Regions from separate parts of the Homo sapiens genome. Here region 2 is linked to region 1. Evidence: fine-mapped expression QTL. A gene starts in region 1. The other region holds a variant in brackets. All regions are shown on one strand. Distances are between the middles of the regions.

Region 1 (2,822 bases):
AGGGACATGGTTTAACTCTTCCAGTTGCCCAGTCTTCACAATGAAGGGTTTGAACAGGGTTAATTTATTCATTTAACTACAAGTGTCAAACCAATGAACAATGGATAGAAACTTTCTGTTAGATGAATGGATAAAGAAAACATAGTAAATACATACAGTGGAATATTATTTAGCCTTGAAAAAGAGGGAAATCCTGTCATTTGCAACAACACAATGGAGGACATTATGCTAAGTGAAATATGCTAAGTGAAATAATATGCTAAGTGAAATAAGCCAGTCACATGTATATGATGTATCAGAAATTGATTCCATGTATATGACATATCAGAAATTGTCAAACTAATAGCAGCAGAGAAAAGAGTTGGCTGCACCAACAGCACCCAGGGCTTGGAGCAAATTGTCAGGGGCTAGGGGAAGAGGCAAATGGGGAATTGTTATTCCATGCATATAGAGTTTCGGTTCTGCGGGGTGAATAAGTTCTAGAGATCTGCTGTACAACATAGTGCTTGTAATTAAGAATCTGGTATTGTGTACTTCAGAATTCCTTAAGATCTCATGTTAAGTGTTTTTACCACACACACACACACACACACACACACTCAAAGGAATATGAGAAACTTTGGGAAGTGTTGGATATGCATATTACCTTGATTGTGGCGATGGTATCATGGGTGTTTGCATATGTCCAACTTCACCAAACTGTACACATTAAATATGTACAGTTATTTGTATATCAACTATACCTCAACAAAGCTGTTAAAGGAAACTTGCTCTTAGACATATTTTGTTTGGCCTATACAGTGCTTTAAATTTAAGCACCCACATTTAATATTCTAGAATTTCTGATAGAGAGCCACACTTCTGACCTTCTTTCAAAACTGTAAGAATTGGTAACACTGGGCCTGCATGTCCACATGGCAACAATTGGCTGCAATCTTTCTCCCCTCACACGGGGTTTACACTCTCCTAACTTGCCACGGTCCCCACCACTCCCTATTGTATCCCCCACACAGGGGCTGAGTGCCAATGGCTATTGACTTATTGCACCTGATCCTCCTCACTCACCTGCATTCAGTGCCTGGCCCTGCATCGGATAGTCACTGAGGGCCCATTTTGTCCATGGCATCATGCTCTTTACATCAGAAATTATGATGATAAAGAGCTTAGAAGAGGGCACTGGGACCTGGGTATAATGAGATCATAGACATCTCCAACATCATTTTCAGCTGAGAATTCTAGAGTTCTGTAATGTAAGAAGTCTCTGCCCCTCCCTCCCTGAACTGTAAAAATGAACATTTTCACTCAGGGTGATCTCCATCTCCATGCTCAGGTCGGGAAGGGAGATGGTTCCCTTCCCACTGTCCGCATGCCTCATCCTGACCCTACAAATAATTTAACCCCCTGGATGTGTGGGTGGGGAGCTCTCATAAGCTAGCCATACACTTTCTCTCTCTCTCTCTCTCTCTCTCTGTTAGTTTCCTCATCTGGAAAAAACACCACTAGGTTGTTGAAAAATTTGGAGTTCGGGGCTTGAGTTTTCCAGGCTACATACGCTATGACTGACCTCGGACAAGTCATTTCACCTCTCTGAGTCTCCTCATCTGCAACATGGGAATAAATACTATCATTCCTGTATAAGAAAATGTGTTCGGGAAATGGGAAAGTACTATACAAATGAACAATTGTTATTAATTTTATACATAGCAGAAGATATTTTCTCCTCCTTTGTATCAAGGGGATGGCAGAAGAATAAAGTGAAGTGATAGGCATGTCACTGCCTTGGAAGGGAAATTGTTCCAGTCCACAAGGGATTCTTGTATTGTGATTATTAATATAGTTCACCAAATGGTCTTGGCTGGGAGCCTGAAGGTGTAGCAGCTGCAGGGACTTGAAGCTCTCCACCGCTGTGGCTCCTGCCTGCCTGCCTTCTCAAGACAGGTTTTCCCCTTCTCTAGGCTGGCGTTCCTCTGTCTCCCAGAATCCAGCTCTGATCGTCCTTTTCCCACAAGTTCTCCTGGATGATCCCCGCTCTTCCCGCACCCTATGCCGCCCTTACTTTCTGGGTGCAGATGTCAAGGACTATTGAGTGCCATCCTGGAGGGGTTTTAATGATCACCTCATGATTCTGCTGGTGGACATACTATTTTTTTTGAGCCCCCATCATGTGCCACGTACTGAATTGGTGTGAAAGAGATGAATAAGACATATGAAGCTCTTGATCTTGTGGAGATGACAGTGGGGAGGAGACAGAGATAACACACAAGGGAACAAGTGAGTACAAATGCAGAGATAATTAAGACCGTGGTAAGTCCCATAAAGAAAATAAAAGAGAGACGATGTGCTCCAGAGTGCTTGGGTGGTGGGGAGTGGTGGTAACAGAGGGTGGTTATCTCTTCTTGGAGGAGCTGACGTGAGCTGAGATGTGAAAGATGGAAAGGAGCAGCCATGGGGAAATGGAAGGAGATGCATTCCAGGTAGAGGGAATGAGGTTGGCTTGTCCAGGCTTCTTAATTAACCGATGAAGACAGAGCAGGGAAGTGTCTTGCACGAGGCTGCACAGCTAGTCATCAGCAGCAGAGCAGGACTAAAATCCTGTTCTCTGGGCATCCAGGCCCGTGGTATGCTAATGCAACCCTTATTTCTTCTTTGCAAGCAGGGCCTCTATGGAGCTCCTCACCTGTCAGTCAGCTTTCCACACCCTAGCCAGGGTCCTCCCTGTGCCCCACCCTCTGTCCAGGGTAGCTTCAAGCTTGCTCTTCCCCTGCTCTCCAGAGGTAAATGGGACAACACAGGAGCAGAGAGAAAGCAGAGTGGTTGAGTGG
Region 2 (2,822 bases), 27 kb before region 1:
ATGCCCTGCCCCCAGAGGTGGAGTCTACAGAGTCAGGCAGGCCTCCTTGAGCTGTGGTGGGCTCCACCCAGTTCGAGCTTCCCAGCCGCTTTGTTTACCTACTCAAGCTTCAGCAATGGCGGACGCCCCTTCCCCAGCCAGGCTGCTGCCTCGCAGTTTGATCTTGGACTGCTGCACTAGTAGTGAGCAAGGCTCTGTGGGCGTGGGACCCGCTGAGCCAGGCGCGGGGCATAATCTCCTGGTGTGCCATTTGCTAAGACCGTTGGAAAAGTGTAGTGTTAGGGCGGGAGTGTCCCAATTTTCCAGGTACAGTCTGTCATGGCTTCCCTTGGCTAGGAAAGGGAAATCTCCCGACTCCTTGTGCTTTCCGGGTGAGGTGACGCCCTGCCCTGCTTTGGCTCATGCTCCATGGGCTGTACCTACTGTCCAACAAGTCCCAGTGAGATGAACCAGGTACCTGAATTGGAAATGCAGAAATCACCTGTCTTCTGTGTCAATCACGCTGGGAGCTGCATACTGGAGCTGTTCCTATCTGGCCATCTTGGAATGGACTTCCTCTGGTAGTATGTTTTAATTGATTGCTTTTTATTTGTAGTGTATTTATAGATTTTTGCTTTGTGGTTACTATGAGGCTTACAAGTTCTTCTAAACAGACAGCAACTTAAATTTGATCACAAAAATAAGAAACAAAGGAAAAACTAAACAAAACTCTACACTTTAACTCCACCCCTTGCTACATTTTGACTTTTGTTGTCTCAGTTTACATCTTTTTATTTTGCCTATCTCTTAACAGGTTACTGTAGTTATTATTTCTGATAGTTTTGTCTTTTAGTCTTCATACTAGAGACATGAGTGGATTACACACCACAGTTACAGTGTTAGAGTATTCTGAATTTGTTCACTTACTTTTACTAGTAAGTTTTATAACTTCAAATGCTTGCTTTTTGCAACCTTTCTTTCAGATTGAAGAACTCTCTTTAGCATTTCTTGTATGACGAGTCTAGTGATGAATTCCCTCAGCTTTTGTTAGTCTGGGAAAGACTTTCTCTTTCCTTCATGTTTGAAGGAAAGCTTTGCCAGGTACAATGTACTCAGCAGTTTTCTTTAAAAACACTTTAAACATGTTGTCCTCCTCCCTCCTGGCCTCTGTTTCTGGTGAGAAGTACGTTGCTAGACAAATTGGAGCTCTTTTATGTACTATTTGCTGCTTTTCTCTTGCTGTTTTCAGGATCCTCTGTCTTTGACCTTTGAGAGTCTGATTATTATATGCCTTGGGGTAGTCTTATTTGGGTTGAATCTGTTTGGTGGTCCCTGAACCTGGATATTTACATCTTTCTTTAGGTTTGGAAAATTTTCTTATTGTTTCTTTGAACAAACTTCTTACTCTTGCTGTTTCTCAACTCCCTCCTGAATGCCAATGACATACATTTGCTTTTTGGCAATTATTTTCTATATCTTGTAGGCATTTTAAATTCCTTTTCATTTTTTTCTGTGTATTTTCCAGTAAACTATCTTTGAGCTCACTGATTCTTCTGCTTGATCTTCCTTCTGCTGTTGAGAGTCTCTAATGTATTTTTCAGTTCAGTAAATGCATTTCTCAGTTCCAGGACTTTTGTTTGATTTTTTAAAAAATTATTTCAACCTTTTTGTGAAATTTCTGTTAATTTTCTGAATTGATTTTCTATATTACCTTGGAATTCACTGC[A/G]TTTCCTTAGAATTGCTATTTTGAATTCTTTATCTGAGAGTTCACACATCACCATCTTGTTAGGGTTGATCACTGGCTCTTTGCTTTGTCCATCTGGGGAGGTCATGATTCCCTGTTTGCTGTTGTTTCTTGTGTATGTACATTTATGGATTTTCATTGAAAGATTAGTTACTTATTCTAGTCATCACTGTCTCACATGTTCTGGTCTTTCTAGGGTATATTTGCTTAAAGGTTCTTTGTAGCTGTCTGCAAGTCTCCTTAATCCTATATTGTTGCCTCTCTTTCTTGGCACTAGGTAGTGCTTTAAGCTCAGGTTTGCCTCAGCTCTCACGAAAGTTCAGAGCACTGTCCATCCAAATGTTCAGAGCACTGCCCATCCAAATGTTCAGAGCACTGCTTGTCCTGAATGGGGGATATTCTGGCTAAATGGGAAGGCTGGCAAGGAGTGTATGCCCAGTAGGCCCGTGGAGCATGCCTTCTATAGCATGCTGTTAAACAGCTACTCTGATTTGGCATCTCCTTTGGCTGAGATAAAAAGCAGAGTTTTGTGGGCTGGGGTTTCTAGTCCTGCCTCCCCTGTTTGTCTCTAGGTACCCTCAGGGTTTTCTCTCCCTGTAGGCACTTGTGGTGCTTCTGGTGGGCTGAGGTAGGAACAGTGTTTGTGCAAGGGAACCCAAGAAAGTGAGGAAGCTGGCTGTCTGCCTTGCTTTCACTTCTTCCAGTGTAGAAAATGTGAATCTGGAAGAAATGATCCATGAGTGGTGCCTGGCAGATTGAAGGAGGGGCATTGTGGATAGAGAAGTCTGTTTCTCTTACCATCTACTCAGAGTGTTTTACTTCTCTGTCGTTCCGGGGATTGTCTCAGCCTCAGAATTGAGTTCTGGGATAATGCTGGTGATAATCTTGGTACTGGATTTTATTTTATTTATTTATTTTTTGTGGGAGAGAATAAAGCCAGGTTGCTTTGACTGTACCAATTTGGTGATATCACCTTGACAGAATTTTTAAGAGAGCCATTTGTCATGTTTCCTTTTCTACTATGGAAATAGATGAAAACTCCAATAGCCTGGGTCCCTGCTGAACTGAGTTGAATGTGTTAACAGCTGAGATTTTGGAG

Alleles and levels. Positions count from the first base shown, and alleles are read on the strand shown. Sizes are in standard deviations (SD) of each study's normalised expression.
As copies of A replace G in region 2, the expression in liver of the gene that starts at base 1,181 in region 1 goes up (moderate effect, 0.68 SD a copy in GTEx).

The links. PIP is the estimated chance that this variant, and not a neighbour inherited with it, causes the effect. A credible set is the group of variants that fine-mapping cannot tell apart.
Region 2: its variant is the best candidate, but not a certain one, in a credible set for the expression of LINC02702 in liver (GTEx, PIP 0.83).

What each region holds. Positions count from the first base shown.
Region 1 is chr11:116,637,781-116,640,602 of GRCh38, reverse strand. LINC02702 (long intergenic non-protein coding RNA 2702) reads right to left here and starts at 1,181. Exons shown (of 3, transcript NR_135069.1): 1 at 1,066-1,181. It overlaps LOC107984372 (a long non-coding RNA gene), which reads left to right and starts at 1,289. Exons shown (of 4, transcript XR_001748078.1): 1 at 1,289-2,271.
Region 2 is chr11:116,664,448-116,667,269 of GRCh38, reverse strand. No RefSeq gene overlaps it. Among named protein-coding and RNA genes, the nearest start is that of LINC02702, 26 kb to the right of the region's middle. The variant A/G (reference allele first, on the strand shown) is at 1,706.